4 linked regions of the Homo sapiens genome follow. The protein of the gene in region 1 purifies or fractionates together with the protein of each later gene. This does not show direct contact. Each region holds a gene or a part of one and is shown on either strand. Other genes may lie near its edges.

What was found. Proteins that work in one complex are often made in the same cells at the same time.
Region 2: the proteins of CCDC51 (region 1) and PLBD1 purify together in Homo sapiens (affinity purification with mass spectrometry; 3 studies listed by BioGRID and IntAct, with this or other methods). This does not show direct contact.
Region 3: the proteins of CCDC51 (region 1) and PKP1 purify together in Homo sapiens (affinity purification with mass spectrometry; 3 studies listed by BioGRID and IntAct, with this or other methods). This does not show direct contact.
Region 4: the proteins of CCDC51 (region 1) and GM2A purify together in Homo sapiens (affinity purification with mass spectrometry; 3 studies listed by BioGRID and IntAct, with this or other methods). This does not show direct contact.

The regions. Positions count from the first base shown.
Region 1 is NC_000003.12:48,431,673-48,434,396, reverse strand, and holds the end of CCDC51 (mitochondrial potassium channel), read left to right. Parts: intron 1-420; exon of another isoform or gene 421-525; coding exon 526-690; intron 691-1,230; coding exon 1,231-1,989; 3' UTR 1,990-2,224; downstream 2,225-2,724.
Region 2 is NC_000012.12:14,506,023-14,508,883, reverse strand, and holds part of PLBD1 (phospholipase B-like 1 precursor), read left to right. Parts: intron 1-1,765; coding exon 1,766-1,951; intron 1,952-2,615; coding exon 2,616-2,722; intron 2,723-2,861. UniProt on the Homo sapiens protein: In view of the small size of the putative binding pocket, it has been proposed that it may act as an amidase or a peptidase.
Region 3 is NC_000001.11:201,325,006-201,328,505, forward strand, and holds part of PKP1 (plakophilin-1), read left to right. Parts: coding exon 1-122; intron 123-748; coding exon 749-833; intron 834-3,500. UniProt on the Homo sapiens protein: A component of desmosome cell-cell junctions which are required for positive regulation of cellular adhesion.
Region 4 is NC_000005.10:151,266,685-151,270,184, forward strand, and holds part of GM2A (ganglioside GM2 activator isoform 1 precursor), read left to right. Parts: intron 1-46; coding exon 47-229; intron 230-611; coding exon 612-767; 3' UTR 768-807; coding exon of another isoform or gene 808-956; 3' UTR 957-3,500.

The DNA.
Region 1 (2,724 bases):
TGCATTCTGTCATCTCTGTTCCCACTCCTGCTTAGGCATGTAGTAGTGTAGCGTGGTGGGAAGAACCTGGGGTTCAGCTGGGACTTTGAGACAAACAGTGCCATCTCTTTCCTTGGAGATTGTGAGCTTGGCTGAGCTGGTGTTTCTGGGTTTATAAACTGGAGGCCACAGCAGTGCCTTTCATGGCATTGTTATAAGGCATAAATAAGGCAACACACGGGAAACAGCCTACCAACACAGGTTTGATGGACACAAATTGTGTGCATTGTTAGCTGTTTTCAAGTTTTTTCAGGGGCATGTTATTTCTGCTTGAATGGCTAAATCTCGTGATTCTGATGGGTGTGGCCCAAGGCTGCACTTTGAGCACCACTGGGTGAGCCAGGATTAGTGTCTAAGGAATTCCGTTTCCACCCTTTGCAGCTCACACCCCAGTGACCTCTTCTGGGAATGCCTTGCTGGGAATGCAGCTGAGCCTGTGTGGGTGTGGAGAGAAGGTGCAGATGGCCTCCGGTTTTCTCTTTGCAGGCTGAGAAAGTGTTCATGGTGGCTCGAGGGCTTGTCCGAGAGGCTCGGGAGGACTTGGAAGTTCACCAGGCCAAGCTGAAGGAGGTGAGGGACCGCTTGGACCGTGTCTCCAGGGAGGACAGTCAGTACTTGGAACTGGCTACTCTCGAGCACAGGATGCTGCAGGTAGGCACCTCAGGAGGCAGCCCTTTCGCACCTGGACAGTGACCCTAGCCTGGCAGATCATGGAGGGGCCGGGTGGGAACCCTGACTGGTCTGTAGTCAGAGGCCTGGTACAGAGGTGAGCCAGAAGCTCCTATGGATGGACAGAACCCCAAGCTTCCAGAGTCTATCCATATACTTTCTTCTGGAGTACTGGGGCCAACTCTTCAGGGCAGCGTAGCCTGGGACTCAGAATGCTGAGGAAGGAGAACTATGGAGGGGCTGGCCTAGGGAGTGCTGGACACTTCCCTTTGTGTAGACATAAGTGCACCTCTGGTCAAACCCAGAACTGCTCAGGTGGGACGATCATGCAACTCACTTTGATCACTCCCAATTCCTTTGCCCTTCTGACCCAGCCAGGTTGGTGCTACCTTCATTCATTCAGCATGGGTCTATGGAACATGTACTCTGCCAGGCACAAGGTAGTGAGCCATCTGCTGGTGGCTATAGCTGCAGGGCCACCTTGTGCCCATGTAATCCAATAACATGGCTTTGCTTCTGCAGGAGGAGAAGAGGCTTCGCACAGCCTATCTGCGTGCAGAAGACTCTGAGCGAGAGAAGTTCTCCCTCTTCTCTGCAGCTGTGCGGGAAAGTCATGAGAAGGAGCGCACAAGGGCTGAGAGGACCAAGAACTGGTCCCTCATTGGCTCAGTCCTGGGGGCCCTGATTGGTGTGGCTGGCTCCACCTATGTGAACCGTGTGCGACTACAGGAGCTGAAGGCTTTACTCCTGGAGGCGCAGAAGGGGCCTGTGAGTCTCCAAGAGGCCATTCGAGAACAGGCGTCTAGCTACTCCCGCCAGCAGAGGGACCTCCACAATCTCATGGTGGACCTGAGGGGCCTGGTACATGCTGCTGGGCCAGGGCAGGACTCTGGGTCACAGGCAGGTAGTCCCCCGACCAGAGACAGAGATGTAGATGTCCTTTCAGCTGCCTTGAAAGAGCAGCTTAGTCATTCCAGGCAAGTCCATTCATGTCTAGAAGGCTTACGAGAGCAGCTTGATGGCCTAGAAAAGACTTGTAGCCAAATGGCTGGGGTGGTTCAGCTTGTAAAGTCTGCAGCACACCCAGGCCTGGTGGAACCAGCAGACGGGGCTATGCCCAGCTTCTTGCTGGAGCAGGGGAGCATGATCTTGGCACTGTCAGACACGGAGCAGAGACTAGAAGCCCAAGTCAACAGGAACACCATCTATAGCACCCTGGTCACCTGTGTGACATTTGTGGCCACACTGCCTGTGCTCTACATGCTATTCAAAGCCAGCTAACCCCTGGCCCCTCCTCCAGAGGGTCTGAGGCAATAGCTGTGAATGTGGATTTAAGTAGAGAATCGTAGCAATGAAGCGAGCCTTTGGGGGCATGTACAACCTCAATCTGAAGGAGCAGTATCTGTGTGGCTCACCAGCAGGCATGCTTCGCTTTGTAGACAAGGTTCATTTACATTAATTATCAAAACTTTGTGCTAATGTCCAATTAAAATATCCTGAGTTTTATTATTTAAAACAATCAGACTGAGTTTTTTTCATTAAGAATCAAGATCCAAGACTTGAAGGTTGGGCCTGGAGTTGGGGTAGTCACCCCCTTTAGTTCCTCTCTCATCTCCTCTCTGTCCTCTTTTCTGAACTGTTATGGATGCACTCCTGAGGCCTAGATTTTCATTTTGGATTTCCTCCAGTTACCTGACTGTCCGGTGTCAGATGGCCTGGGAGTTCCAGTGAGTGGAACCTAGCCTGCTGCCTACTCATTTCGTGACCATGGTTGCTTCCCATCTCCTGGATCACTTTCTCTACCATGTGGGGGAGAACTTCCTGGTTCTAGTACTGGAGGAGTGATCAGAGGAGAGCAGGGAAGGGAGATTGGGAGAATGGTTGATAAATGTTGCTGGGGACATAAGTATAGGGATTGGTGGCCAGTCTGGATCCCTGGTACAGAGATTGCTTTGGGCAGCAGTGGTGTGCCACGGGGGCTGGGTGCACACCCCCACACAGCCCGGGGATATCTTC
Region 2 (2,861 bases), on another chromosome or scaffold:
CAATTGACCTCTCTGAAACTCTGTTTCTTCTGTTTAAAAAAGGGATGGTAATACTTATACATCATCAGGTTTTTGTGAGATTAAACAAGCTGCTCTATTTTCTTTATTTATTTTGAGACAGGGTCTCGCTTTGTCACCCAGGCTAGATTGCAGCTGCGTGATCTCGGCTCACTACAACCTTTGCCTCTCGGGTTCAAGCGGTTCTCGGGCCTCAGCCTCCCGAGTAGCTGGGACCACAGGTGTGCACCCCAATGCCTGGCTATTTTTTTATATTTTTAGTGGAGGCAGGGTCTTGCCATATTGCCCAGCCTGGTCTTGAACTTCAGAGCTCAAGCAATCCACCTGCCTCAGCCTCCCAAAGTGCTGGGATTACAGGCACAAGCCACTGCACCAGGCCAAGTTGCTCTGTTTTAAATCACGAAGCTTCATGAAATGTGAAGTATAAAGTAGACATTTTCGTTATTCATTTGAGCTGTTTTCACAAAGAGAAATATAATAATCTAATGTTTACCAAGTATTAGATACTATTGTAAGCACTCCATCTGAATGCATTTCATGCTCATGCTTATGAAGATGCTTAATGCTGAATAGTTAATGAAGATGAAGAAACTGAGGCACAAAGGGGATAAGCAATTTGTTCAAGGTCACATACCTAATAATGGCAGAACCAGGCTTCAAATCCAGGCAATCTAATTCCTGAGCCTATATAACCTAGATATGTTTTAGCAACAAATCTGTTTTTCTTCTTTAATTTCAATGTCATCCATATCTCAGTTCTTCTGATGCTGGCTCTGTCTCAGAATTAGCAAGGCTGAATGTCTTATCATTTTCTTTTTGTCTCAGTAACCTCACCCCTAAAGAGGAGGTCCTGTACAACAATACAAAGGAGAAAGGCAGAAAAGGGCCAGGAGAGAATGTGGAGGTGGGAGAGAACCCTGCATGGTGGAGACATTCCTTGACTGTTCTGTAGGCAGTAACCCAGGCCAGTGTCATCCAGGATGTTTCTGAAATTCTGCTTTTACAAGAGAGAGCTGTGTCACATATTTGGTGCTCAGTGACTAGTAGGCTATGTGGCCTTCACACACTATGAAGCTTTGAATGAAGCTGAGCCTTTATAAATGTTTAGAGTCAAAGGAATTAAAAGCCTAATGTAACCTAAAAGATCATCCCCAATCCCCTTACATTATGGACTTCTCCTCTCCCTCCCCATTGACGTCTTTCAAAAAAAAAGAAACAGAAACAAAACAAATGAAGTTGCCTGCCTAAGACCTGATTCTTAAGCCCTGAGCCTAGAATTCAGGCTTTCTATTCCCAGTGCTATGTTCTTCCACTACTTCATGATTACCATTTGACATCTTCCTTTATAGGGCCACACTGTGAACAACCATTTCTTGGCATTTCAGTAACTAAATCCACTTAGATGAGCTCCCCAGACCACCTTGCATTATACTTTATTTTGCTCTATAGAGAATATGGTTGTTTTTTGGCTTAGAGATTAAGAATTTTGGGTGAAAACCAGAGAATTCTGATGCTCTTCTTCCCCTAATGAAATAACCTAGAGCTGTGCTGATTTAGGAAATTTAAAAGGCTGTTTGGCTGCCAGGGTTCACATGCAAAGCTTTATTTTCTGTACATTATTTTGTAATTAAATGCCTGTGCCCATTTTCAAAATAAATGAACATGGATAACATTTCTTTTGCTCTCTCTCCTTTTCTGTCTCCTTCCCTGTCAATCCCTCCCTTACTTCCCTTCCATTCCAAATCAGGATATTGGCCCTCCTACAATGTTCCTTTCCATGAAAAAATCTACAACTGGAGTGGCTATCCACTGTTAGTTCAGAAGCTGGGCTTGGACTACTCTTATGATTTAGCTCCACGAGCCAAAATTTTCCGGCGTGACCAAGGGAAAGTGACTGATACGGCATCCATGAAATATATCATGCGATACAACAGTACGTAGCATATTTCTCAAGAATCATTCTTCAAAACTCCTTTTCTTCCCTATGGATACAGAATCCATGTAAGTTTATCATCTCTGTACTAGAAGGAATTATAAGAAGTTATTTAAGTATTTAACTAATATTGTACATTTTATACTCAATAAATAGAGCTTTGGCCTCCTTTATAAAATGAAAGAGAAGAGTCTATACATTTTTTAATTGAAAAAAAAAAAATCATCTGTAAAACACAGAAGAAATAACTCATAGAGGGTCCTTTAAAATTTTTCTCCAAACACAAGTTTCCTTCCAAGGATAACAGCAGCTAATAAAACAAAACATTGTTCATAAATACCTCATTTTTTTTGTATGAACAGCATCAAAGTCAAATTTGTATTTATTTTGTTGGAAACAGCTGATGGACGTTTATCTGGTTCTCTTTCCCATCCATTTTTCACTGTGTAAGGTTCTTGAGGGCAGGCTGGGCCTGGGGCCAAGGACTTACTCCTTCCTCACAAGCCAAGGGAGATGTCTCTATCTGGAAGCAGACTGGGCTGAGGAGGCCTGTGGGAGTACACTCTCTGATTATCTAGGCTTTAACAGGCCTCAAAACCTTACTGTGGAGAAGTGTGTCTCCAAATAGCCAATAATCACTCTCTTCCCCATTTCTGTTTCCTAGATTATAAGAAGGATCCTTACAGTAGAGGTGACCCCTGTAATACCATCTGCTGCCGTGAGGACCTGAACTCACCTAACCCAAGTCCTGGAGGTTGTTATGACACAAAGGTAACATGCTATTGGCTTTTGAATTTAATTCCCACCAGCACACAGGCCTCTCCAAAGGCAAAGTTGCACAGGTTTTTATGGCAGGAAGCGATGTCGCTAACCATAAACTCAACCCAGGAATCAGCTTTTTCAGAGATTC
Region 3 (3,500 bases), on another chromosome or scaffold:
GAAGACATCTTGTCCTCGGCCTGCTACACTGTGAGGAACCTGATGGCCTCGCAGCCACAACTGGCCAAGCAGTACTTCTCCAGCAGCATGCTCAACAACATCATCAACCTGTGCCGAAGCAGGTGGGCGGGGGGTTGCTCCCACGGGCTGCACCCCAATCAGAGCCCCTCCTCACCCTGCACAGCAGGAAGCAGTCCCGCAGCTCTCCATGGAGTAGGGGAAGCACCAAGGGCAGGGGGAGCCAGGGACGGGGGAGGCTTGAATGGAGGAGAAGTTCCAGAAGCCGAGAGTGCGTGGAGAGAAGGGTCCAGCATCCAGGCCCCAGGGCTGCATGGAGGGAAGAGGCAACACACTTCCTGGCTGGGGGACTCGGGGGCACAAGGTCCTCAGAGGGCCAGCAGGAGGCATGGGGCAGCAGGTCCAACTGAATAGGGACTTTATCCTGCTCTGTGGGGCTCTCTCTTCCCCGGACAAGGCTGGGGACTGGAGTGGAAGAGCACTGCCACCTCATGGCCCCTGAGGAGAGTCCTGGGGTGCTCTAGGTGGGCAGGGGCATGGGGTTGTGCCCACTGGGTAGGGTGACCAGGCTCACCACACCCCAATGGGGCTCCTCTCTTTTGCACACCTGAGGCCTCCTCTGAGGCCTCCCCTGTGTCCAGGCCCTGGCAGTGGGGGTGGGAGGGAAGAGGGTGCTCCTTCTCACACCTCCTGGAATCTCATCTCACAAATGCACTTCTCACCTGCCCAGTGCCTCACCCAAGGCCGCAGAAGCTGCCCGGCTTCTCCTGTCTGACATGTGGTCCAGCAAGGAACTGCAGGGTGTCCTCAGACAGGTAAGAGCCCAGGACATCATCCTCTTCTGAGGTTCTTCCTGCTCATGAGCAGAGGGCCTGGCATATGCTGGGCTCTGGGCTGGGCACTAGAGAAACGCCCCTGCCCTTCGGGACAGTCTGAGAGACAAAGACAGCGTCTACGTGAAAATGAATGTGATGAACGTTCTGATCAAGTCTCTGGGCTCTGAGATCTGCGAGGGATGCTGAGAACATGGAGGGCAGAGGAAATCAAGGAAATGTGTGAGAGGCCTGGGGTGGGATCCTTTAGGAGCAAACTGAAAAACAGAGTGGACAAAAAGCACACAAGTCTTTTGAGGGCATGGGGTTCACTCCAGCTAGAAAAGTAGGTGTGGGCTAGGTTACAAAACCCTTCTAATGTCAAACTGAAGAGCTTGGACTTGTACCTTTGGCACTGGGGAACCATTCAAAGTTTTGAATAGAGGGTTTCATGATCAAAGCAGCACCAAAGCTCACCCTGTGAGCAAGGCAGAGTGGGCTGAGAAGCCTGGAGGCTGCTGTCCTTGTCCTGTGGTGACCTTGGCCTCCTCTCTGTCCTCCACCCCTCCCCAGCTAGCCAGGTACAGAGTCCTCTAGGGTATAAGGTCTTGTTGTATGACATCTTCACATGGCCTCTTCTTTCCCATTCCTCAGTGATAAGCATGGACATAAAGGACAGGAGGTGGAAGAAATGGAGCAGTGGGGCTGATTAGGCTGGAGCTTTTAGCTTGGAGACTATGGTTATATTCATAAAGACACATCAGATGAGGAGAGCCTGAGAAGGCTTTTAGGTGGGAGTAAGAGGGGTCCCAATTTGGAGAGGTTGAGTTTGGAAGACTTGGATGGGAGTCCAGGCTGGAGGTGGTGTGGGCCCTGGCAGAGGGGCCAGAGCTACCATACAGAGTGGAGCTTTGTTCAGGCAGGCGAAGCCATGAGAACAGGCAAGACCACCATGGGTTGCATGTGTATGGAAAAGTCTTGAAGGACAGGGCAGAAATATGAAGACCATCTGCTGGGGACAAGAAGGAGGAAAGGCCAGGGAAAAGAGGAACTGTGCAGGGTGCCAGAAGGGGCTGAAGACCTGGTAAGAAGAGAAAGCTCTAAGGAAGGCAGGGCAGCAGTTCCCAGGGCTACCTAGAGGACCAGGGGATGGACACTGGAAAAGGCCCTGGATCCGGTGCTTCGGAAGTCTCTGGAGCCGTCCAGGAGCACTGCTGGCCAAGCAAGGGGAGCCCCATGGGGCCTGCTGCAGTGGGCAAGGCAGTGGATGGGGATGGATGGGGAGTTGCTGAGAGGAGATGCTGCTCCCTGCAATTTAGCCTGCAGAAAAAGGAGCAAAACAGTGGGTAAAAAGAGATCTGTTTAAAGACAGAGGAGACTCAAGCATCTCTGTCATGGGAGGAGAGGGAGTAGGCAAAGAAGGGAGAAAGACAGGGATGGAGGACAGGGAAGCCTGGGGATTGGTTGAGCAGCGTGGGGCAGAAGGAAGCCCAGCTCTTCCTCCAGCATGGCAGGGGACAATAGGGAGACTCATGAACGCACGGTGTCCAAAGATGATTGGGGAAATCTGAAGGTCACAGCAAAGGGTGGCCCTTGTTCTCCATGTGACAATCCAGAGCTCCTTTCCAACAGCACTGCATTGAAGATGGGCTTGGCAAATGGCAACTGCCAGATAGACAAAGGGAGACGAGGAGGCAGGTAAGGAGGACTGGTGTGAGCTTCCTCCCGCTGTGTAATGGTGGTCCAAAGCATTCAGCTTACCCCAAAACACAGAGTCCACCCCCGGCCTAAGACACACAGAGAATCCACTGACATCGCTCTCGGTGGGAATTCCCTTCTACACATGCCTTTGGGAACCAGCGTCCCCATTCAGTCTCCACTCCTCCTTCCAGCTATGCTTGACAACCATCCTGGGCATGATCTAGTTGGTGCGTCTGTTCCCAAAGGGCCTTCACATCCATCATGCATTGAGTTGTCACAAGCACAGGTGAGACAGGCCACATGGCTTGTGTCCATTTTGCTGAATAGGGAATCAGGGTCCAAGGAGTTTGTCTTGATTCAGTGAGTCAGGGCATGAGCCATGCTCGACAGGAATGAGCATGCCAATCTGCAGAAGAAAAATGGCATCATGTAATACATGCCCAAAGACAGGAGGGGCAGGGCTTCGAACCGGCTGCTGTTTCGGATCCCCTATGCCATCTCCCCTCCTGTTCCCACAGGTCGGTGATGGCTGGCTTGGCTCTCAGAGCTCAGGGCTGGCAGCAGGACCCTCTTTTCAAGGGCACCTTGGCCTATTGCTGCATTCAAATCATGCTGTCCACATTCACTTGGAAGCATGTATTGGGCACCTGCTGTATGCTGGGAGAAATAACAGGAATAAGACTCACTCTCCATCCAGCAGGCACTCAGGGGCTAGTGGGGCTGGAGGTGAAGAACAGACAAGTAAACAGAACCTTCTAGCACAGCGGCTTCTTACCAGTGCGAGCCCCCTGCTCCTGTGTTTGAGAAACAATGGGCATGTCCTCTCTGCCCAAGAGCTCTTGTCAGAATTGTTTAAAAAAAGAAAAGATAGAGGTGGTCAGAGGGAAGAACAATTGACAGCTTCTCTAATCTGATTTTGATTGTTGCTCTGTTTAAAAAATAATACTAGCCTAAATCCTCACGCCTTGA
Region 4 (3,500 bases), on another chromosome or scaffold:
ACACTTATAACCTTTTTCAAACCTTTGTTTTATTTTTTTTTACCAGGTGGATTTAGTTTTGGAGAAGGAGGTGGCTGGCCTCTGGATCAAGATCCCATGCACAGACTACATTGGCAGCTGTACCTTTGAACACTTCTGTGATGTGCTTGACATGTTAATTCCTACTGGGGAGCCCTGCCCAGAGCCCCTGCGTACCTATGGGCTTCCTTGCCACTGTCCCTTCAAAGAAGTAAGTACTTAGGGAGGAGAGAGCGTTACCCCTGTGGCTAAAGAGATGGGGTTTGGAGAGAAGGGTCTTTGCATTCTCCTTCTGCAGATCTGCATGTCTCTGGATTTGTAAGCCAGTGTGACCTATCAGGAATCACTTATCTTCCGGGAGCCTCAGTTATCCATCTACGAAATGGGAGACTTGAACTTAGATGTGATCTTCAGGGCCCTTTATCCATAATAATCCATGCTCTACAGTGCTATGGCCGTCTCTCATCTTGTGCGGCTGTTTTGAGAATGGGAAGAGGGGTGGTAGTTCATGGCTGCAATCCTAGCAGTGGCTCTAGGAGAAAGACCCCATCAGTAGGCTCCCACTGACTGGCGGTCCACTGGCTTTCCCGCAGGGAACCTACTCACTGCCCAAGAGCGAATTCGTTGTGCCTGACCTGGAGCTGCCCAGTTGGCTCACCACCGGGAACTACCGCATAGAGAGCGTCCTGAGCAGCAGTGGGAAGCGTCTGGGCTGCATCAAGATCGCTGCCTCTCTAAAGGGCATATAACATGGCATCTGCCACAGCAGAATGGAGCGGTGTGAGGAAGGTCCCTTTTCCTCTGTTTTGTGTTTGCCAAGGCCAAACTCCCACTCTCTGCCCCCCTTTAATCCCCTTTCTACAGTGAGTCCACTACCCTCACTGAAAATCATTTTGTACCACTTACATTTTAGGCTGGGGCAAGCAGCCCTGACCTAAGGGAGAATGAGTTGGACAGTTCTTGATAGCCCAGGGCATCTGCTGGGCTGACCACGTTACTCATCCCCGTTAACATTCTCTCTAAAGAGCCTCGTTCATTTCCAAAGCAGTTAAGGAATGGGAACCAGAGTGTTTTAGGACCTGAAGAATCTTTATGACTCTCTCTCTTTCACTCTTTTTTTTTTTTGTCACTAAGTTAAAAGCGAAGTGAGAGTATTAACGTTTTTGTTCTCCTCCGGCCCCCTGTTACAATGAAGGGGCAAAAGTATTTGCTCTTAGTCTATTCCTCCCTTAACTTCTGTGACTAATTTTTATTTCCTTTCTAGATTTGCCCAATTAATACTAGGGTGCAGTGTATCCTGGAGAGGTAGGGTGTGTGGGGGAGGAATCCCTTGGGGGAGATATTAGGAGTGCTCTGTTGTTTACAAACTCAGGTACCCGCAGGGCCTAGCAAGAGACTTAAATGACTGATAAGAACCGTGAGAAACATGTTGCTTCCAGGCTTGATTTCGATTTTTCGCTTTTTTTTTTTTTGAGACAGAATCTCACTTTGTCACCAGGCTGGAGTGCAGTGGTGCAATCTCACCTCACTGCAACCTCCGCCTCCTGGGTTCAAGCAATTCTCCTGCCTCAGCCTCCCAAGTAGCTTGGACTACAGGCCCTGCCACCACGCCCGGCTAATTTGTGTATTTTTAGTAGAGATGGGGTTTCACCATGTTGGCCAGGATGGTCTCGATCTCTTGACCTCGTGATCTGTCCACCTTGGCCTTGCAAAGCGCTGGATTACAGGCATGAGCCACTACACCCAGCCGATTTTTCCTTTTTGATTAAAGATGCTATTACAATGTAAATATTTCTTACACAGAAAGTCACAGCACATGTGCCCATTGATACAAGGCTGCTGAGGCCTGGTCTCCAGTTGGAAATATAATTAAGGGTGGCAAGGACTGGAGTCAGTTGGAGAGTGCATAGCCAGTCTGTGAAGACAACTGCCAGATACTGGCAATACTCCAGCCTGGTGACAGAGTGAGACTCTGTCTCAAAAAAAAAGTTTCAATGTTTACTCCTAGAGAAGCCAAAAATCCAGATTTGTATATGAAATCTTACCATTTTAAAAGATTGGCAGCTAATTATTTTTTTAAAAAGCTGTGCAGTGTGATGTGTCCCAAACGGACTGGCTCATGGGTGGCCACGTCACAACCTCTGATCTCAGACCGTGCATGCCTTGTCCTCTTAAGACAACTCCTGTGGCACCGTTTCTCCCTCCACAGGGCCAAAGCCATAGTGTCCGGTCCCAAGGACAAGGCTCTTCCAGTGCTAGGAGAGGTATGAGCAGCCTCTCACCTGTGAGCTGTGGGGATCACAAGGCTGCCTGCCTCAGTCTTGGAGTCCTGTTGGGTGAATGAGGCAGATGGGAAAGAGCCTCACCAGCAGCTGCTTTTGGAGCAGGGGTCCAAGGAAGAGAGGGTGGCCTCGACATCAAACTGCCTGGATTTTTCTACCACCCTGTTACATCATAACAACTTCTGAAACACACACCAGCCCTGAGTTCTGGGCTCATTTGAAGCCTGGAATAGCAATAAATCTTTTTAACTTGCGGACAGTTTCCCCTTGCCTTGGCTGCATATTTCACTGATCACATCTCAGGATTTCAAAAGCATTTTTGGGGTGGGGCTCTTTTGGTTGGAAGGGTTTGTTGGAACGGTACAGGTGAGCCGAGGTGATTCCAGGGACGGACCCTTCTGCAGGAGCTTGAGCTTGCTTGTTGTCTCTGCTTCATCGCCATCCAGCTCCCTTGTTTGCTATTTTGCTTTCCATCACATCATGACTGCGGAGAGCAAAAATCACCTAGTGACCATTGAACAGGTCCCAGAGACAAAATCTTTTTATCTGAGGAATTTAAAAGGGAGCAAAGACCACCTGGTGACTATCAGGCCATGCAGAGGCAAAACGCCTTATTTGGGGAAAATTAAAAGTAATTAGACTTTCCTATTATCTAAAGCAGGCATCTGGTTCCAGATTTCTTTTCCCCGAAAAAAACCTTAGAAGTAACTAAAATTTCTGTACATCTCCGGAATGCCATGCTGAAACTCACTGCAACCCCACGGTCCCGCTTTAAGGTCCATAAATATCCCTAAGGAAAAATCCACCGTGGTACATTCAGTCCTCTCACCGAGGTGCCCCATGGCAGTCTTCTGCAGCATTCTTCTAATACCTTTCCTTTTTCAAACCTATACTGTTGTTGGTGAATTCTTTTTACCAACCCACGAGTTGACCACTTCCCAATGCCGGGGATCTGACACCTCACCTGGCAATGACCTCCACAGCCGTTTCCCTCTGTTGGATCTTCCAGCCTTATTCTCAACAGTTCATTTTTAGTTCACATTCTTGACCGAATCTCAGTAGCTCAGTTAATCTTTTTATGTCTGCTCTGCTCTTGGGTCATATGTTCCGTGAGGTTTCTTAGGGGTGGGGGATGAGGAGTTAAAGGTGGCATCTTCAATCGCAGGTCAAAGCAGACTTTAATAAATGGTGCTGAGCCAA